Linked DNA regions of Homo sapiens: all the other regions are reported to be linked to region 2. Evidence: microRNA targets listed by miRTarBase, many of them from high-throughput screens and not tested one by one. Region 2 holds a microRNA gene; each other region holds the end of a gene's coding sequence.
What was found. Region 2 holds the annotated microRNA hsa-miR-216a-3p (UCACAGUGGUCUCUGGGAUUAU, at 4,510-4,531, opposite strand). A microRNA usually pairs through its seed, bases 2 to 8, with sites in the 3' UTR of a target mRNA and lowers its output. Matches are read on the target gene's strand: a 7mer-m8 pairs with bases 2 to 8, a 7mer-A1 pairs with bases 2 to 7 and ends in A, and an 8mer does both.

Region 1: the mRNA of LYSMD3 is a reported target of hsa-miR-216a-3p. Seed matches in the 3' UTR shown: 7mer-A1 at 1,577-1,583.
Region 3: miRTarBase lists MBL2 as a target of hsa-miR-216a-3p. The part of its 3' UTR that is shown has no 7-base or 8-base seed match.

What each region holds. Positions count from the first base shown.
Region 1 is chr5:90,512,565-90,519,564 of GRCh38, reverse strand. LYSMD3 (LysM domain containing 3) reads left to right here. Exons shown (of 3, transcript NM_198273.2): 3 at 81-3,939. The coding sequence ends at 746. It overlaps POLR3G (RNA polymerase III subunit G), which reads right to left. Exons shown (of 8, transcript NM_006467.3): 8 at 5,008-7,000. Among named protein-coding and RNA genes, the nearest start is that of LYSMD3, 14 kb to the left of the region's middle.
Region 2 is chr2:55,984,472-55,992,866 of GRCh38, forward strand. MIR216A (microRNA 216a) reads right to left here and starts at 4,588; the gene lies at 4,479-4,588. The region is part of intron 2 of MIR217HG (MIR217 host gene); the gene reads right to left. The region is part of intron 3 of LOC105374690 (a long non-coding RNA gene); the gene reads left to right. RefSeq lists enhancers at 889-948, 979-1,068.
Region 3 is chr10:52,762,339-52,769,338 of GRCh38, forward strand. It overlaps MBL2 (mannose binding lectin 2), which reads right to left. Exons shown (of 5, transcript NM_001378373.1): 4 at 6,909-6,977; 5 at 3,042-6,172. The coding sequence ends at 5,799. Among named protein-coding and RNA genes, the nearest start is that of MBL2, 6.9 kb to the right of the region's middle.

The DNA of each region.
Region 1 (7,000 bases), not on the chromosome of region 2:
AGTAACTAGAATGAATGACTATTGCTGCCTTTATTTTGATTGGAATTCAGTTGTATGTTGCTTTTTTTTCCCCCCCACAGGTAGCAGATATCAAGAGAGTTAACAATCTCATCAGTGATCAAGACTTTTTTGCCCTTAGGTCTATCAAAATTCCAGTAAAAAAGTTCAGTTCCTTGACCGAAACACTTTGTCCTCCAAAAGGAAGACAGACTTCACGTCATTCATCTGTTCAATACTCTTCCGAACAACAGGAAATTTTGCCAGCTAATGATTCTCTTGCTTACAGTGACTCAGCTGGTAGCTTTTTAAAAGAAGTAGACCGAGACATAGAACAAATAGTAAAGTGTACAGACAATAAGAGAGAGAACCTCAATGAGGTAGTATCGGCCTTAACAGCACAACAAATGCGTTTTGAACCTGATAACAAAAACACTCAACGTAAAGACCCCTATTATGGAGCAGACTGGGGAATAGGGTGGTGGACAGCTGTAGTGATAATGTTGATAGTAGGTATAATAACACCAGTGTTTTATTTGTTGTATTATGAAATTTTAGCTAAGGTGGATGTTAGTCATCATTCAACAGTGGACTCTTCACATTTACATTCAAAAATCACACCCCCATCACAGCAGAGAGAAATGGAAAATGGAATTGTGCCAACTAAAGGAATACATTTCAGCCAACAAGATGATCATAAACTGTATAGTCAAGATTCTCAGTCACCTGCTGCTCAACAGGAAACATAGCAATTAGCTCATAATCAAATGTTAGTGGTCACATGTGCATCTGGAATGTGGTGAATCAGTTATATCCAATAATAGCTTCAAAGGCAGAATTTAGAGAGATTGAGGATGCTTTTGTTTTTAACAAAAGGGTTTCACACTTTGAAAATTTTTTGAGCAACTAGTTGTTGATGTTGAGAGCAGTTGATCCATAAATCTGGTGTGTGAATGTTTCAAGCAGAAATTAATTTAAATGTGTGTTTAGGAAGTACTTAACTTGGAAGATGTATCATTTTTCTTAAAATGCATGTTTAAATTTTATTTTTTTAAGTAATTTTTAAAAAGTTTATTAATGTTAAATTTATGATGCAGAATGATAGCATCAGATGTCTGCAGCTGAAAAAAATTTACTACTATGAACCCCCAAAATATTCAGTTGCAAGAAAATTTGATTCTAAAATTATTCATGGTAGGATACGTAACACACCCCTTCAAAACTTTTAAAAAATACATTTAGCACATGTGCTATGAAAGCATACGTACAAAGAGAAAGGGGAAAGTGATTTATAATTCCTACAACAGAGGCCAAGAAATAGATTAAAATATTTTCAAGACCCCAAAATAATGTATTATGGTTGGGAAGTCAGTAGAACACTGGAATAGGTGAAGACCTGACAGTAATTTTTGTCTTAAGAATGCTTTCTTTAGGACAGACCCTTTAACCTCACCTCTGTGCATCTGTTTTTAAAATGATTATATTTGCCTCTGATATTTGAAAGCACTTTTGTAGTTTTGATGATGAAAAATATATTAAACGTGCATATTACCATTATTTAGGAAATAATTCCTTATATACTGTGATAAATCATTGCTGTTACATACAGTAACATGCCTTAATTACATTTAATGCCTTACTGCTTTATGTAAGTAAATCCAAGTTTCAGAATTAAAAATAAGCATTATTTCATATGGTCCAATCAGATTCGTTACATAGGCTATATAAATTTGTCTCCATTTTCACCATCAAGCACAAATAATTGGGTCAAAACTGCCTTTGAGGTCTGTTGAAGAAAATGGTTCATTAAGCAAAAAAGAGTAGAGGTATTTTATATTAGCAGTAACAGACAAATTATTTAGTAATCCCTTAACCTCTGTTTTTCAAAGAGAAAATATCCAATTTAGACTTTTTTCCTGATCTCTATATATAGCATCAAATTGGGAAACAAAGGCCAAAGGTGTATAGATTGCTTGAAAGGGGGTGGTAGTGCCTCTTTTTAAGATCTGTTGAGTCGGCTACAGTCTGGCTAAGTAAGAAGCATTTGCATACTGATTCCATCATTTAATCTTTAAAAGTATGTGTTTTAAAAATGTAACCAGAATGATTCTTCAATAGAAATGAGATTTGGTGGAGTCTGGATTGCCTGTTTTGTATATAATATATACTTAAGATATATAATACCACCTCATTTTCTGGGCATTATTTCCTAATTGTTGATGTTTCAGGCTTTTGATAAGTCATTTTATATATTTCAAATTTAACTCAGAATAAGTAAATATTTATGGCAAATGCAGTTTTATGTACTTTCAGGAGAAGACCATCAGGAAAAGACAGGACAAAGAAGTCAAACATTAAAGCCCTTGCAAATATTAGAGGACCTTAGACAATTACCAAAAAGTGTTTAATAGGGAAGTTGCAAATGATTCTCTTAGTAAATTAAACATTTAAAAAGTAGTTTTAATGTGCCTTGGGCATCTTGAAAAGAAGAGTGTGATATAATTTATGCTTAGTGTTAACTGGTCATTTTACATTGTATTTATTAAGTCTGCTGAAAAATGAGGTTTTAAGGAAGAAAATGCAGATTATTTTAGGGTAAACAGGCCAGGTGTCCTTTGAAGAACTTTGTTTACATCAAATTGATGAAATTACAGTCAGTGATTCCTTACTTTTTTTGCTAGTTGTACTTTGAAATTGTTATGGGTTCGATTTCCAAAATATGTAACTTATTTTTTAAAGGAATAAGGTGTGCTGTGTATTTGTTGATTAAAAATCATTTGTCTTGCAGAGTATCCTTTTTTGAAGGAAATATACATCCTTATAACACATCAGGTAGTTTTCTTTTTTCTGTATTTAAATTATATATTTGAATTAATTGAATATAATTTGAGTTACATATAATTCTATATAAAGGTTACATATTGAATTATGGTTCTAATCTGTTTAGGAAAGAAATGAATTTTCTAAGCATTTAATACATTTGGAATAATTTTAGTTTCTAAAAAGTACTAATGTAAGTTAAGTTTATATCAAATGCAAATTACCTTGTATAACTAACAAGCACAGTTATTGTTTAACATTATGGATTTTAATTGTGTTGACACCCTTCTTTGAATTTGTTGCTTTACATGTGTGTCTGTGTGTGTGTCTGCATGTGTGCACGCATGTACTTGTATGCAATGTAAAAGTAACAGCAGAATCATTGCATTTGGTTTACTTAAAATTTTGGAGTTAGCAAGTAAACAAAAAGCTGATAGTTTTATGAAGTCTCGGTTAAAATAAAATTTCTTTGCTATCTCACTCCTAGGAAGTTATGGAGTTCATATTTTCAAAAGATATGTTAAAAATGGTTACACACTCTGCTGGCCACATTAAAAATTAGAAGACTCATGTTAAATTATCTCCTCCAAAGGACTTTTTATTTACAGCTTTTCTTTTCCTGGACTCTACCTGCTTGGTTCAGTGTCCTGAAGAGTTATTTAAATGAACCACTACTTAGTAATTAGTTCTTTTTTAAAGTATCTACTTCTAAAATTACCTAGTTGAAAATATGAAGGATATGCTTAGTTTTAGAAATATCATGAAGCAAGGATCTAGTCAGTGTTACAGGGTAAAGGTGGAGTTTTTTAAAGTCTGTATTTAAATGGTGCACTGATGGATTCATTTTTAATTTGCATTACAAAAATGTTGCTCAGGTAATCAGTATTTTCTTCCACGTATGTGCATATTGCACTGTTAGATCATAGAAATATCTGAATGCTTTAATTTTTATGTATGCAAAATCTATAAATCTTTTGTATAATGTATTTTATACAAATGTAACTGTAGAACATTGTTAGCATGTGTATCTGTAAAACCAGTTTTTAAAATTTTTTGCCCCTTATTTTTCATATTTTGAAAGATCTCCAACATGTAATAAAGTTTCTCTTATTCAATCTAAAATGGAAGCCAGTGAATTTAATTGAATAAAGCAAAGCTTTTCTCCACTTTCAAACTATCTAATATAGAGATATTATGTAAGATAGAGCAGATTGCCAAAGGTTTACCAATTCAGATTTCTTATTTGCTACAGTGAAGCAGAATACCTTGGATTATTTGTAAGACATAGATGAAATATTTTAGATGAATGTTCTTTGGGAGATTTTCCTCAGGGTAAGATCTGGTAAGGCATGGTCCAGGAATTGCTATGAAGTTGTAGATGAGTCATTATCTATAGATTATAACCTGCTCTCTTTATATGTGATTTTAATTTATTATAAAACAACCTCAAGAATACTGTTTAAAAGATTATTAGCAGAAAAATTGAGAAAGTTCTTTGGAGCTTTTATTTATTTAATGGAGGAATGTGTATAAACCCTGATTTTTTTCTTCCATTTTCAAATGCATCTTGATCTTAATATTGTGTTAATTTTTTTTAATAAATAGTAATTTTTACTACAGAGGTTTTTTTAAATTTTTTTTTGGAGACAGGCTCTTGCTCTGTTGCCCAGGCTGGAGTGCAATAGCATGATGGTTCACTGCAGCCTCGAACTCCTGGGGCCAACTGATCCTCCCATGTGAGCCTCCCAAGTAGCCGGGACTACAGGCACATGCCACCACACGGGCTTGAGATTTTAACCATGTAAAGGCAAAGCCATCGACACTGTACATTTGAAGGTAGTGAAGTGAAAAGTTTAAAAAGAATCTTCTGAATGTCTTAACATTCTCTGGTATCCACTATAAGTCAGCCCAAGCATGAATGATCACACTAAATTATATTGTCTGCCAAATCTCTTAAGTTATCATAACTCGTGTGTGTGTGTGTGTGTGTGTTGCCATCTTGGCTCACTGAAGCCTCGACCTCCTGGGCTCAAGCAGTCCTCCCACCTCAGCCTCCTCTTGGCCCATTGAAGCCTTGACCTCCTGAGCTCAAATAATTCTCCAACCTCAGCCTCCCGAGTAGCTGGGACTATAGGCACAGACCAGCATGCCCATCTCACAACAACTTTTTTGAATAATCATTAACCAGAGTTTTGTTGTTTGTGGTGATTGTTTATTCAAGAATATTTGGAACAAACATCCCTGCTTAATAGTTACTAGTTAAGATCTATATTAACAAATTAGTTTTCTCTAACAAATAAACATTTAAATAAGTTCAAAATAAAACATCTTACTATAAAACAAACGAACACATTTTGTTTTGTAAGAATTTAATGTGTAAATAAATACAGAAAAACAAGCATTACAGCAACCAGTTTTGCTCATGATAGCAATTTTAAAGACACTTCAACAAATACTTTTATGTAAGAGGCTAATTCTGCAAAATAACATTCACTTTCCTATGGAATAATTTCACAGTCCCAGATTTTAAGCCAGAAAAATGAGACTCATGCTGGTAAAGCAACCTGCAAATCCTGCTTGTTCTTGCAACTAGTATACTTTAACATTGTAAAAGGATCTTTCAAAGGGGGAAAGAAGGCTCTTAACGGTACCTCCCAGAGTAAATCCTTGCCCCAAGGGGCTGCCCTGCTATCTGCAAGACTAAAATGGTCATGACAAATTCAAAGCTAAAAAAAGAAATAACCTTTATCTTCAGTGTATTTGCCTGGTTCAAGTGGTTATCTGCAGATTTATAAGTAGGTAAATAGAACAATATTGATAAGATTTCTGAAAACTAAATTGTATTTGGCTCTGGTACTAAGGAGTTGAGAGAATAAAACACCTATGTTAATTATCAACCGCAAATGACAACTTTTTGTGAGGTTTCTATTCTAAGGCTTACTTTATTCGTGTATTCCATTTAGAATCTTAAAATTTTTTGACAACTTCCTTTAAACAAGAAGTAATTCACAAATGGTTAACACAGCACTAAACTAATAAGATAGGTCCTCACACCCATCTTGAATTATTTAAGAAAGTATTGCCATTGAAACATCTTTTTCCTGAGAAATTCATATTGCAGAATGGCACAAGACAATACACATTTTCTCCAATTTTCTGCATGAATACAAGATAGGAAAATCAGATTACAATATATTTTGTGAGGAAAACATGTTTCTTAAAATTGTGCTTTCAGTTACTCTCCAAACTACAAATTTTTAGAGGGTGAGAGCCAAATGTAAGTTAAGAAGTGATCTTTAAGGCAAGAGAATGAATACATATGGTAAATTTTGGTTGGTGTTTAAACAATTTTTATAGGAAATTGTTTACGAGTGGAGAAACTAAGGCACAGAAACAACCAAGCTCAGGTTCAAGGTTGAGTTTAATAGTATAGGTAGAAATAGAATCTAGGGATCTGATTCTCATATTAGAGGATAATATCTCCCCAAAGGGGAAAAATAAAATTATTTCTTTTGGTAGATAACATTGATAAATCATTTTTGAAATATATAATATGAATTTCCTTGAAAATCTTTGGCATTTCTGAGAGTCTTTGTAGGCTGAGGTTTTTAGGTATTTTTTCCCAAAAAATATATAAAGTTAGGGGAGCTAGCTTTAAAGTTAAACAACAAAAATATTAATATTAATTTCAAAATGACCTGAGTTCATTTTGCATTTTTATATAAATCAATTGTACACTTGAGTACTCTGAAACATAAAAGGCCACCACACTTCACTTCATAGAGTTCACACACATGCATTCTACATATTTATATGACCAGAACTTATTTCACATTTACATAAAGTATAAAATAAAATGTCTTAGTCAAATTTTTCATAAGCCCAACTATTTGAAGATGTCAGTTATTACAGTGGGATGATTAATTCATATACAGTATTAAGTCTCAAATTCAAGTATTATAATATTCACCCCATGTGAAAGTTTCTTTGTACTGGCTAAGATGTGAGCTGTGAAATTTATATTGCTCAGTTTGGTATTTTTCCCTATGTGTATGTTTTCCATCACAAAACCTCTGTCTCACAATTCTGTACTTGTAAGAGCTCAGGTAGGTTTATGTAGTCATAATGCAGTAGTCTAGAACACACCATGTAAAGGTAAAAAATAAAATTATTTTCAAGTTTC
Region 2 (8,395 bases):
ATATTTTCATTTTACAGATAGTGAAAATTTGGAGTACATTAAAGTATCTTAGGGACATAATTTCTAGCTTATTGTTTCTCTCTCTAGAGGTCTTATATGTGATCAAATACAGTATCTCAATTGTTTACCAGACATTTCCCTAAAATCTGTATATCTTTTCTAAAGGGTATTCAAATGAAGCCAAAGACTTGTAAGCAGAGTGGTCTTAGAAAACCTAAAGACTCCTTACTGGAGAAGGAACCCCAGGAGGAGCACCTGAGAAGCCAGTTCATCATGATGTTCCCCTCTAGTTAGTATTGTCTCTCTGTAGTTATAGTTTCTGAGTTTTGCAGCAAGATTTGACAGATTAGGGACTTGGGTTAACAACTCTTGTGGTGATTGGGAAACCAGTTTGTATTGTGTCATTTGTGTGCTGGGATGAATTGTGATAAGATAGTGAAAGTAGGTGAAGAATAGGCTTTCTTAAGATTTGATTGTTGCAAATATGCTCTATGTGATCTTCCTCAGGTAGTGTCATTAATTAAAAATAACAGGGCAGGAGTCTTGTCATAATTTTAGGCTTCTTTTGGCTATTATCTGGAGTGTCCAGCATAAGACTGCAAGTTTTAAAGTCCCAAGGACTGGGATACAGTTGGCTGGGATGACTGGATATTAAAATGTCATCTTTCCTTACAAACTACTGCAGGGAATCAGATGGGGAAGGAGAGATTCATCAAGGTGGGTGAAAAGGTCCTCTAGGCCAGTGGCTCTCAAAGTTGAGCAATAATCCACAGGCTTGTTAAAATATAGATTGCTGAGACCCACACCTAGAGTCTCTGATTTAGTAAATCTGGGATGGGGCCCAAGAATTGGCATTTTTAACAACTTCTCTAGTGATATGGTCCAGGGGCCATAATTTTAGAACCAGTGCCCTACCCTAGGCAGAGACTATTTGAGTTATTGGAAACAGGTGATCTCAAACAGGACCTTGGTAAGTGAATGTGATGATCTAGAAGGAAAAAGGCCAGAATTGAGCACCTATAGAAGTTCAAGTCCTAGTAATTATTGTAGTTCAAGAATGTTGCTTGTTGAATGTCACTATATTATTATAGGTCTTTAAGGAGTACATTTGTAACTTCCTGTTTTCATTTCCTTTCACCGCAGAGAAATCACAGAACAGAAACTCTGCTTTTCTCTGGCCAACTAATCACTACTTGAGTTTGGAAATATAACTAACATGCCTGTAGACAATGCAAAATGATAGTAAGCAATACAACTGAGATTGGCCACTATAAAACAGAATCCTAAAATTCAGGTCACAGTTTTGAGCAATCTTTAGAGCATTGTATATGCTGAAGAGTATTTCCCAGTAATTGAGGTGTGTATAATATAACTAAAAAGCAGAGGATCACCCTTTCCAGGGTATTTCAAGAGTTTTTCCAGAGAGATCCTCCTGGTATGTCCATGCCAGGTGACGAGCCCAAATTGGGTACCTTGCAGGGTTACGGATCCTGAGGGGACTTATCTGATACAGAATTAAGTCTGTAACCAGAAAAGCTCTTTCTGTCCTGCTCTACCTTAATGATAGACAGCTCTGGCTTGGATAAGACGGTTATAGAGACTCATCTATAGGAGTTTCATGGTGAATCTTGCAGTGATCATTAAAAACAGAAGCCATTTTTGTTTATTTTGTTTTGCTATTGTTTTGGTTGGGCTGAGGGCAGGCTGCCAAAGGAGGGAAAAGTGGGACTTTCTGGGCATTCAATAAGTGTTCATCATTTAGTGGTACAGCATGGGGGAGGGCCACAGAAAACTCTAATCTGGATTTCCACAGAAGACAAACATTTGGAGCCTGGGGCCATCTTTACCAGGCAGAAATATAATTCAGGTTTTCAACAAAAGCTCAGGATCACAGATTCAGCAGACATCTAAGGTCTAGTCCTGCGGACTGGCAGTAGGTTCTGCTTGTTTGCTCTGATTAAGAGGCCGGCTGCTTGCACCTTGACTTTCATAGTCTTCATGGTACAGGTGGAAAAGGGATAATAAGTGCCACGCTCTAGGTGCTGGTGAATGAGATGATGAGCTAGGAATGCTGAGGACTTAGTTCCCAGGAGCCCTAACAAGGTCTTCGGTCATCAGCAAGACAGAGCCTCTTTACTAAAAGGGTGGGAATCCTGTTGTACTCTATTTTTACTGAAGACTGGCATAAACCCAGTCTAACAAATGATATTTTGAATGTCTCATTGACAGAGATGCCAAATCCTTCACTTATTTTGATGCTAATTACTACCAGGATGTAATTCTAAAATTATTAAGCTTTAAAAGAAAAGTCAGAATCTATGTGTTGAAAGGATAAGTGATTTTCTTTTTTTCTTGAAACAGTGACTCAAGCTGTTGCCTAAAGGAGTTGGGGCTCCTGATTTCTGAGCTAATTTCCTTTTTGTTCTTTCATACTAGCTTTCCTCTTGGTTGGAATCTGCCTATCCTGTGGTCTTACATTCCTAAAGTTAAATGACAAGGAAGTTATTTGCAGTCCACAATAACTATTTTTCTTTAAAGTTTATACATGGTTAGATTCTAAGAAAAGTCTATTAAACTGTGTTACTGGTAAATAAGTCATGCCACTTCTTTAATTAAAACTCTCCAATTGCTTGTGGAGTCCCTCACACTAAAACCCCAAATTCTTACCATAGTCTACCTAGCTATACCCTCTAATCCTCTCCTTCCAGTTTTTCTCACTGCACTCCAACCACAGCTTCCCTGTTGAGCTCAAATACAGTGATTCTCACCTTTGGCTGCACATTACAATCCCCTGGGTGCCTCTTAAACAGAGATGCCCAGATCCCATCCCAGGCATTCTGATTTATCAGTGGCACAGCCCTTGATATTGACATTTTCAAAAGCTCCCTGTGCCTCTATGTGCAGAGAGCACTGGGAACATCTGGAGACTGCAAGAGTGCACTGAGTGTACACACAAGCAAGGCAACAAGCATGGTTCCTGATGCATCATATGTACTCAGCTCTTCAAAAAATATTTCCTGCTCTGTTTAATTACATTTATCTTCTTCCCTTTTTGAAAAATGGTCACCAAAAATTGGAATTGGGAATTTTTTCATGTTTGAAAAAATGATTATTTCAACTAGCAGGAGGATACAGACAACATTTAGAAAGTTTCAGCAGCAGCTTAAAAGAGCCCTTAATGAGTCCTGAAAATTAATACGAAGCCCTCTCCTTACCAGAGGTAAGTTATTTCCTGGCTTATGGTTCAGTATTTGTGCTATTAGTATGTGAATAACTAGTTCTCAAACTTACCTCCTACTGCTCAACATCAATTTCTGGCAAGGAAATCTAATAGGTCATACTAATGTGCCTTGATACAGAAATGTAATTTTTTTTTTTTTTTTTTTTGAGACAGAGTCTCGCTCTGTCGCCCAGGTTGGAGTGCAGTGGCGCAATCTTGGCTCACTGCAACCTCCGCCTCCTGAGTTCACTCCATTCTCCTGCCTTAGCCTCCTGAGTAGCTGGGACTACAGGTGCCCGCCACCATGCCCAGCTAATTTTTTGTATTTTTAGTAGAGACAGGGTTTCACCGTGTTAGCCACGATGGTCTCGATCCCCTGACCTCATGATCCGCCTGCCTCAGCCTCCCAAAGTGCTGGGATTACAGGCGTAAGCCACTGCGCCCGGCCCAGAAATGTAATTTAATCAAACTGAGATATACAGACTTCTCTTTCTGAGGATACCTGAGGGGATATGTGCCAGTCAAGACCTTGGAAATAGCATTTTAATAATTTTTGTTGTTAAAGTTATCCCACATTTAATTATAAATTTGGTTCATCTGATTTGTTTTGTGTTACTGGGTGAATGAGGAAGATAACTGGCCTTGATTTTTCACCCTGAAGAATTACATTTGTTCTTATTCTTTTTATGGAAAAGGATTATCTGTTTCCAGGGATCACCGAGAATTAGAGTTGGGTACAGCTCAAAAGTTTCATGGCAACCTCAGCCTAAGCCATAGTTGATTCTAAATTTCAATATTATTTAGGGCAGATGAATGTGAAACACTTACAGAAGGAATGAGGAAGGGCGATTAAATGTGATAATCTGGGGAGTTGAAGTTTGAGGAGGGCCTGGCAGGAGATCGTCCTCTTTTAGACTGTTTGGAATTTGATGGAGTAGCACCCACAAAGAGAGTGGGAGGAGCTTTCAGAGGGAAAATATTTTGGGTTCAGCTTCTAACACCCAAACTCCCTTGGCTGCAATTTTTTAAAAAACCAAGTAGCACTGAAGGAGCGCAGTAAGTAGCAAGCGAATCCAATAAAGGCAAATTAATTCCCAAGGCTGGTTTCCTTTCCAGCACAACAGCACTTTAGAAAAAGACTTTACTAAGATTAAAAGAGGTTGAGCATGAAACAGTAACCATCGAAACTTTTCCCCCCGTCTTGGTCATGAAATAGAAATTTGGTGTTTAATTTTGGTTGCCATGCAAGTCTTTTGATTCGTGAGGGCTAGGAAATTGCTCTGTTTAGCATAATCCCAGAGACCACTGTGAGGGATTGTATGAACATCTCACAGTTGCCAGCTGAGATTAAGCCAACTCACAGCCATCCGTGTTAGACCTGCAAGAGAAAGTGTATGAGCAGAGGCACGTGGCTGCCTCAGGTGGAAGCACATCTTCATACATCGAGTGCACCAGCAGAAGCCCTGATGTACCCCTCTGCATTTTTCTTGAGGCGACATTATCAAGCTACTCCTCTTGCTGAATTCACAGATTTCTGGCATATGCTATATTGCATGTAATGTCATAAAAGTATAATCTTTGCATTTAGAAAGGATTTACTCTAATCCATATATAGTAAGAAACAGCCAAGTAGGAGTACAGGTGAATGTAAAACCAATCACTAAAAATGATTTTTTAAACAAGCTTTATAGAGAACTTGGAAACATCAAAGCCAAACACTCTAAAATTTGTCCTCAGACAAGAAAACCAGCAATTACGTTGAAAAAGTAATGACCGTATACTCACCAAATGGCCAGATGTGTCAATAGCGGTGGCTATTACCTTTCATAGATGGTGGTATGTCCTCCCCTCTTGCCCACATCACTGTCATGGCTAAGTGAGACTGAGCCATGATCTAAGCCCCTCAGTCCACTGGGTGGGGCTAATCAATGGTAAGAATAATGATTAAGAACGGAAGGAAGAGGAAACGCCCTCAGAGTTTCCCCACCATCTGCCGTGGATGGCATCTCAACTTGAGTGAGTGTAAGAAGCACATAGGAAACTTGTTACAAATGTAGATCCCCAGGACCTACCTCTATATTTTGATTCAGTAGGTCTGGTTTTGGTGGCTGCGATTTGCACTTCGGTGGAGATTTTCCACTGCCTTTCTCCAGCTTCACTTCATACTAGACCATTTCTTCCTCTACATTGTAGACTCCAGCTCTAACAAGTTCTGAGAATCCAATGAGCTGTGTTTGCCCATACTTGGAATTATTTCTTCTTTCTCTCTCCCTCCTCTCTCTCTCTTTCACACACACACACACACACACACACACACACACCCCCTTGTGTGACAGTCACACATTGAAAACTATCACACACTGCCTTCTCTCCCCAGTCTCCCTTTTTTGGCACCTGTAATACACAATGGTGTTTTCTCACTCACATGCTTTCTCCTTCATTGACTGCAAACTTCCAAGTGTTGGCACTGTGCTTATTCATCTCTATATCCTCAACTATACTATTCTCAGTTTAGCATCTGATGTTTAATAAGTGCTCAAAAAAATTTTGTCAAACTAAATCAAATGTTTGTTGAAGCAAAGAATTATGGATTTCAGCTCATAACTTGTCCTTTAATAATTGAGACTTGACACAATTAAGAGAGTGGTAATTTACAGAGTTAGAAAAGTGGCTTTTCGTTTTAAAAGTCAGGTAAATATAAAGTTACAAAACAATTGAGAAAGAACAATTGAATATAATCTTGTGCCTCATATGGACTCCTAAGTACAAAGCTACTTTTGTAAAATAAGAATGTCTCATCATTAGGATTTAACTTTTTAAATATTGTTCTAAGTTTATTTTCTGGAGTCAAATTGCTCAGGATTAAAAATAAGCAGATTTTATCTTAATCAAAAAACAAGGGCTTCTCAGAGCAACATGAATGACGTTCAGTTTTTTCTTTTCTCTTAATCTTATATTTGATTTTCCTTTCTCTCTAGAAAGTTTAATAGTGAAAAGTTACCATAGAGAAGTGACAGGAGTATGTAGTTCTTCTTCCCTCTGCTAGAAAACATTAAGAAAAGATCATAAATGGGAACATCATATGCTGATGTGGAAGATGAGACAGCTTTTTATTAATCTTAAGTTGTCATGTCCACAACTGCACAGGGAGGTGGGCTCTCAATGGAAGCAAAGACATATACGTTTCTGCCTTGCCTACCTTAGTGGGTTGCTGTGATGGGCATTTAAAAAAGAAAAAGGAAGAAACTGATACAAAGTTGTTTTGGCAACAAAGCTATATTAATGTGGATAGATAGTCCACAGGCCAGATAAACTGAAATACAGTAGCAAAGTATCAAGGAGTAAGCTGTTTCTAACACTATCTATACATTCTGTTCAAGTATTCTGAGGATATTATCTAAGATGTCTCTATATGCATATTTTGGGTGCACCGCAATGTATGCATTTGTGATCTTAGTTCTGTTAGAGACTCTCTATAGATTTGTATTTGAGAGTAATAAATTTCAGTTTGGTCATTGGGTCTGTTCAGATGGTGGCAATTTTCCTATTTCCCTGAAGACTAGTGTTATTTATTCAAAGCTGTAATTATTTGGATATCTTCTGAAAACCTGGAGGACTACCCCTTCCTGCAGCTATCTTGGCTGTGGAATGGTGTGTGGGGTGTCGGGAAGCACATGAGCTTTGGAGTGAAGTGGACCTTGGTGTGACTCCTGGTTCTAATACTTAACTACCTGTGGGCTTTAAGGCAAATTGTTTTATTTCTTGGAGCCTCAGTTTCTGTGTTGGTAATACTTGTGCATGAGATTAAGAACTAAATGTGGTGTTTGTGAAAATGTCTAACTAGTACAGAATCTGATACACAGATTCTCCATAAATGCTAATTTTATTTTGTTTTAATTTTACTCCTATGTCCTTTGGTTAACTCAATTACTTTTTCTGTTAGTTTTACAAATCTTCCACCTCTAGAGTTTACAAATGTTATCCAAATCCCACTCATTTTTTATGCTTGTGTCTTTTTTGTTATTTTCCTCCTTCCTAGAATTTTTTCATATCCATTTCTGTATCTTGCTTGAATTACTGGTTTATTACCAATGTACTAGGGTAGTTAGTATATAGGTCAAGAGATGTCTCAATCTCTAAGTTGAAGGGCTTCTGAGTTTACATGATGTTATTGATTCCTCTGAACCTTATGGTATCTAGAGTTGATACAAGCTGTATTTGCAATTCAGTTTTCTCTTCTTTCTCTCCATCATCTGAGACATGTCCTCCCTCAAACTTCAGCCTTGAATTCTGAAACATCTCAGGTCTTTGGATACTCAAACTCAAGCTAGTGCTGAAGTAGTATTAATTTTGTTATATTTGAGTATCTTTTGCATCCTACTTTTTGGAAATTAACTCAAAACAAAGGTAGAAAATCTATATAAATCAACTGAAAAAGTGCTGGTAGATGAGAGGACCCATGAGAATCCACTCAATGTTACTCTCTTCTGTATCCTAATTTCCTAGCAGTTATGATAACTACCTGAAGTTTCCCTAAATGAACTTCTGCTCTTTGATTTCTGGTTGAGAGTCACTATCCAAGCAATAACTCTTTTCAAGTCTGCTTCCTTTCACCTTGTCTTTTTGTTATTTCTGGGACTGGGACTCTGTATCCTCCAAGGTTTGAAAAATAGCCAAACATTATTTATTATTTTTGCAGCCTTGTAGGCATTTGGAAAATGTTTGGCTTCAAATTGATTTCAATAAAATAGTTGGCTGGAGTTACAAATGAGCATTTTGGCTGGAATTGTGTTAAATACCAGTTTGAATTTTGGTAAAGCTGCCCTGAATACATCTATCTTTGTCAATGGATTTGTTTGTTTATTAAGTGCATACTTTCTGGATTTTTGTGGGAAAAGAAGGTCAGACAGAGGAACATGAGGATTAGAAGTGATTACGAACAGGGAAAGGGATTCATGGAGAGTGGTGTCTAGAGATAAGGCATTACGAGAAGGGAATTTGAGTCATAGTGTGCATAAGTGGGTGTCGAGTCCAAAGCCAAAGCCGGAACTGCCATTGAGCTGAGCTTCCCACTGGCATGTTTTCCACATTCTGAATGGTGGAGACATTCTTGAATAGGTAGTCACAATTAACAACAGAACATAAGTATTACTGATACAAAGGATGGTTCCCATA
Region 3 (7,000 bases), not on the chromosome of region 2:
CTTTGAATCACACACACTACAGTAGCCCACTCCCTCCTCATGAATCCCCCAGTGGGGATGTGAGCCCAGACCGCAGAGTGACTTTTTATGGAGGTCCTGGAAAGCACATGAAAATATCTCAATTCATTCATTCATTCATTCTCTCTCTCTCTCTCTCTCTCTGTTTTTCTGTCTTCCCAATCATAAGACTGAAGCTCAGAAGGATGTTTTCCAGGGAACAATTCAGTCTACTGTAGTATACACAACAGGAGTCTCCACTGCCAAGTGTATTTGTTTTCTAGGGCTTCCATAATAAACTACCACAAACTGGGTGGCTTAAAACAACATAAATTTATTCTTACACAGTGCTGGAGGCTAGAAGTCTGAGAGCAAGGTGTCACTAGGGTTGGTTCCTACTGGAGGCTCTGAGGAATATTATTCTATGCCTCACTCCTAGCTTCTGATATAGGCCATCATAGGTAAACAGCCCTGAGGAATTAGCAGCAGTTTCCTGGCTGAATGGTTCATCATATTCTGTGTTTTCTCATAGAATGGACGATTTTAGTAGAAAACAAGTTTGTAGGCAGACGTTTCAGAAGAAGTTGGCAGAAGTTTCTGATACCAGTATTGTCCACAATCTTTGGCAGTCTTTGTCTTAAAGATGTGTCACTCCACTCTCTGCCTTCTTCATCACACAGCATTCTCCTTGTGTGACTGCGTGTCCAAATTTCCCTCTTCTTAGAAGGACACCAGTCAGTGGATTAGGGCCTGCTCTAATCCAGTGTGGCCTCGCCTTGTCTTTATCATAACTGTAAAGACCCTAATTCCACATAAGGGTGCATTCATAAGTCCTGGTGGTTAGGACTTGCATAGATTTTTTTTTTTTTTTTTTTTTTTTGCGACACTATTTAGCCCACAACATTAAGGAATGGGAATTCCTGACCAAGGACACTGAAGGTGGTCTATCCTGTGTTTCATTTCTTCTCCTTTGGTCCCTGGCCATCCCTTCCCAGTTCTGTCTTTTTATTGCTGGCTTATAGCAGTTGTTTCTGTATCCTATGTATCCTTTGACAGATGCAGGCCAATATTTGCAAATATTTTTCTCCTAGTCATGGTTTGCCTGTTTTCCTAATGTTTAACAAACTGAGTTAATCTTTAATTTTGATGAAATTCAATTTATCATTTTTTACTTGAAAAGTAATTGAGTTCTCTAAGACAATTTTGCCTAATGCTAAGTTACAAAGGATATCTGTACATTTTAAACCTAGATTTTTTTAGTTCTTCTGAAACAAAACTTTAAAAGAAGACAGCGAGCAAGCGAGAGACAATCAGAATGTAAAGAGAAAACAATGTAACACAAAGGAATGTAGCTCTTATGATCCTTTGTACTTGTATGTTATCAGTTGTCGTGTCTCCTCTCATTTCTGATTTTGAGTCTTCTCTGTATTTTTCTTAGTTATTTTAGCTAAAGTTTGGAAATTGTATCATTTCACAAAAATTAACTTTTGAGTTTCATTGATCTATTTGCTTTTCTACTCTCTATGTCATTTATTTCTATTCTGATCTTTGTTATTTCCTTCTAAAAGGGCAAAATATTAGTGAGAATACAGAAAATACAAAGAAGATTCATATCCTGACCTAATGATACACTAATCAACTGTAAAAACCACATTATTTCTAGTGCACATAATACATTTACCATTCTAAATCATAAACTGGATCATAAAATAAAATCTTAACAAATTTCAAAAGATTGAACTCATATAAAAGTATATTTCTGGATACAGTGGAATTAAACTATAAATCACTTACAGGAGTATAGCTTTTTAAAATACTCAAATATTTAGGAATTAAACCACACACTTATAAATAAACCATGAGTCGAAGAAGTCACAATGAAAATTATAAAATATTTTGAATTGGATATGAAAAACCTATTTTGAATTGGTGGGAAAAGATACATATCCAAACCTGTGGTATGCAGCTGAAATAGTTCTTAAATAAAAATTATAACTTTAAATGATTATATTAGCAAAGAAGGAAGGAAGAAAATCAGTTCTCTAAATGTCAATTAAAAGAAGCTAGAAAAAGAATGGCCAATTAAACCCACAGAAGATCGATACAAGAAATGATAAAGACAGGAACAGATATAAATAAATGTAATCATAGAGGTTAGTAAACACCAAAAAGAAGTTTTTGGAAAAATTTAATAAAATGGACAAATCCTTTGCAAGATTGATTAAGAAAAAAAGAGATGGGCCAAGCACAGTGGCTCATGCCTGTAATCCCAGCACTTTGGGAGGCTGAGGCAGGTAGATCACCTCAGGTCAGGGGTTTGAGACCAGCCTAGCCAGCATGGCGAAACCTCGTCTCCACAAAAAATTAAAAAAATTAGCCAGGAATGGTGGTGGGCATCTGTAATCCCAGCTACCTGGGAGGCTGAGGCAGGAGAATCTCTTGAACCTGGGAGGCAGAGATTGCAGTGAGCCAAGATCGTGCCACTGTACTCCAGCCACTCCAGCCTGGGTGACAGAGTGAGACTCCATCTCAAAAAAAAATACAATAAAATAAAGATAAAATGCAAATAATCATAACAGATACATAGACATTGCTATAGATCCTACTTATATTGAAAAGAAATACAAAGATATTGTAACAATTTTATGCCAATACATATATATTCAGAGGAAATTGACACATTCATTGAAAAATATAACTCACTGAAACCGAACAAAAGACAGAAAACATGAATAGGTTTAGATCATGAGGAAATTAAATCTGAAATTAAAATCATTTCCCAACAGAAAACACCATTCCAAGATGGCTTCACTGGTGAATTTATCTAACATTAAAGTATAATTTTACACAAATTATTTTAGATAATAAGGAGCATGAGAGCACATCACAGCTCATTTTAATGAGGCTTACATAACATTGACCCCAAACCATAGCAAGTGCATTAAGGAGGGGAAAAAAAGCTAGTATCTCTCATGAACATAGGTGCAAACGTTCTAAACAAACTATTAACAAGTCCACTCCAATAATACATACACAAGATAAAATGTGACTAAATGGAGTTTATTCCATCAAAGCAAGGTTGATTTAATTTTTAAAAATCGATATGTGTTATGTATAATATCACATTATCTCATTAAAAAGCATGTATCTAGCGGCATAACTGTGTGTATTAAGACCTAAAATATAGTATCCTGATACTTTACTACACACTTTAAAGGTGTTAACTTATTTCATCATCCCCACAATTTTCATGAAATAAGAATGATTATTTTCTCTCAGCTGCAAATACATGGCTGAAACACAAAGTAACTGGCTCTAGATCATGTAGCAATTAAGTGACAGAGCTGTGAATCCAGTTTAGATAGGCCTGACTGGAGCACTTCATTATATTGTCTTTCAGGAGTCTATACCTGATCTGGTGGTCTCTGTATTGGGGTTGCTAACCAGTGCAATAAGGTAAGAAAAAAGGTAAAGCAATTGGGAAGAAGCAAGTATTGCCATATTTTCAGCTTACATGACTATGCATATACAAAATCCAGAGGAATCTACAAATTACTAGATTTAAGAAATAAACTTATTGAGTTTACTAAACATCGTAAGACTACACACAAAACTTAACTGTATTTCTGTGTACAACAATAGAAAAGAAAAAATATTTAAAATATATTATTAAAATCACTAAAACCACCAAAACAAGATATACAAGGTTTTTAAACTAAAAATGTCAAAACATAGCAATTAAGTTAAAGAAATTCTAGTTACATGAAGCGATACATGATGAACATTGATTAGAGATTCAGTAGTAAGTTGCCAGTTCTGCATAAGTTGATTGATAGACTCAATGTGGTCCCAGTAGAAACCTCATCAGGATTTTGTAGAAATTGAGAAGCTGTTTCTAATATTTATATGGAAATCTTGACTTTAAGAAGAACAAAGCTGGACTATAGTTACAACTATAAATGTACAATAATTAAGATAGTGTACTGTTTGACACAAGCATCAACAAATAGACTAGAATAGACAGCCCAGAAACAGACACACACACATACAGTTACCTAACTTACAAAAATGCACCACCCTAGTTCAGTGGAGGAAAAATGGTCTTTCCTACATAGTGCTGTCTCAAGTGGATATCTATTCTACCAGGAATAGATAGAATGTTTATTAATAAAACTATTAGAAAAAAATGGAAAAATATCTTCATGATTTCAAAATCATGAAAAATCTCTTCATGGTTTCAAAATCATGAAAAATATCTTATGATTTTGGGATGGGCAAAAATTTCTTAAACATGACACAAAAAGCACTAATTTTGAAAGAAAATATGAATAAATAAGACTTTCTCAAAATTAGGAAATTTTGTTCATCAAAATTCAACATTAGGAGCAAGTCAAAAACTAGCAAAATATTTGTAATACACATTAAAAAGGACATATTCAGAATGTAAAAATAACTTAAAAATCAGTAAGAAAAATATTGGCTAACTAATTTAAACAAAATACAAAAATGTGAACGGGTACTTCACAAAAGAAGATACCCAAGTGCCCAATAAGCATATAAAAAAGTGTTCAACCTTATTACATGTTGGGGAAATACAGATTAAAACCATGGGGAAATATCACTTTACATCCACAGGAATAATGAAAATCAAGAGAACTGAAAACATTGACTTTTTACAAGCACATAGAGCATCTAGGACTGCCACACATTGCCGGTAGGAGCATAAATTCATACAATCACTTAGGAAAACTGGTAATATCTACTAAAGCTGAATACATGCTTTCCTCATCCTCTACCAGTTCCACTCCTGGATAGGTAGTGAAATTAGTGCACCATGTCCACCAAAAGACAAGTCCAGGAATGTTCGTGGGTTCTCTTCCTCATGGCCAAAAATTGGAAGCCACTTAAGTGCCTATTAACAATAGAATGGATGAACTGAGGAATATTAATATAAGGGAACCCTACATGGCAATGAAAAGGATGAAACTTTTGTACACATGACATGAATGAATCTCACAGACTTAATTCTGAGTAAACAAGACATACAACATTACACACAATATGATTCCAACTATACAATGTTTATAAACAGACGAAATTACTGTGCAGTCATGGAGGTCAGAATAGTATTTTCCTAGGAGTTAGTACTAGGAGGAGTTATAACGGGGCTTCTAGGGAGTCAAAAATGTCCCATATCTTAATCTAGAAAGTGAGTATATAGGTATGTATGTGTGTGAGAATTTGTGAAGCTGTTTGCTTGAGATTTGTTATTTATGTTCTTTACATGGTTTAATATCTCATTAGAAAGAAAACAGAGTTCATAGAGAAAGTTACAAAATAGATTTTCTTAATACCTGAAACTTGGTAAAAAGCTGTGGTATTAAACTGTGGTGATGTCATTAGGGGAGCCCTCTACCCAAACAGAAAGGAAGGCTCAACAGAGCACAGGTGTTTGTTGTAAATGGAAAAATAAATCCGTCTTATTTTCATACTGCAGCAAGTTAACACTATCGAAAGCATTACAGATTAATTAAACTAGATAATTAATGTAGGATGCAAAAGATAGGGCCTCATAGTATATATTAAAAATATTATATAATTAGCATGACTACTACTGCTGCTGCTAACTACTACTACTACTATTATTGCTTTGTTGGTGCTGTTAGTGATCATTTTTAGTGATTGCCCACAAAAGGAACAATACTGGATATGAGGAAATTGATATAATTTATCTTTTCAAGCATACTGTGGGCCTGTGGGTTGCAGTAAAAAGACAAGGAGGGCCTGAGTGATATGACCCTTCAGATAGGGAACTCACAGACGGCCAGATGGGAGGTGGAGCAGGGGACGTCATTCCACTGGCCATTTTTCAGTAGCAATACACAATCTTCATCAGAACCAGCATTGTTGGGTTCACCCTCGTTCCAGTTTGTGTAGGTCAGTCTATTTCCTGTCAGATCCACAAACTGCCCTTCTGTCTTCTCATCAGTGATGCCCAGGAAGGCTTCCTCCTTGATGAGATTCTGAATGGCTCCATTCTCTGCAGCATTCCTGGGGGTGGCCACAGAGGCCTGGAACTTGACACACAAGGCCTTCACTTTTTCAAAGGTCATTATTTCACCATTGGTCAGGAAGAACTTGTTCCCAACTTGTTTGCCCAGAGAGAAGGTGAGCCCTAAAATGTGAAAAAGTGGGTGAAACTGACTCATCCTTAAGCCCAACTCAAGGTATTTCTCAAGAAAAAGTCTTCTAGAGTACAGTTGCCGGATAAAATATAGTATGTCCAGTTAAATTTGAATTTCAGACAAACAATGAATATTTTAGTATATCTCCCATATAATTTTTCAGACACACTTATACTAAAAATGTTTTTCAGCTGAAATCCAATTTAACTGGTGCTTTGTCTTTTTATTTGTTAAATATGGCAACCCAAATGTGAACAGACAGACTGGTACAAAGGCCTCTCTGTGCTTTCAGATCAGAATTCTAAAAGACATATAATTTGGACTTCTGAATTCTAAATTGTTAACTTGAGACCAAACAAAAAATGTCTGAAAATATTTGCCCCAGGCAGGTTAGACCCCACGGCCAGGTCTCAATACCAGTGCAACAAAGGGATATAAGTCCCATTTTCAGTGAGCAATATCAGACGGTAAAGGATTAGGGTCTCTCGAGTCAGACTGACTTCCATCTATAAACCACCCCTGCCATTTATTAGCTCTGTGCATTTGAACAAGTAATTTAACTTCCCTTTGCCTCCATTTCTACCAAAATGTTGTGAGAATTTCATGAGGTAAGAATATGAGAAATGCCTAGCAGGGTACAGAAAATTATATGCATTCAACAAATATTTGTTGCATTCTATTTTTCCCAAACTTCAAGCTGCCTGGAGAGTAAGAGAAAAAGCTTACACTTTTTGATACGTGCCATTTCTGTTTGCAGAGCTTTTCTTTCTGAGGCAGCCAGGCTACTATCACCATCTAGAAAATTAGAACAAAGTAAA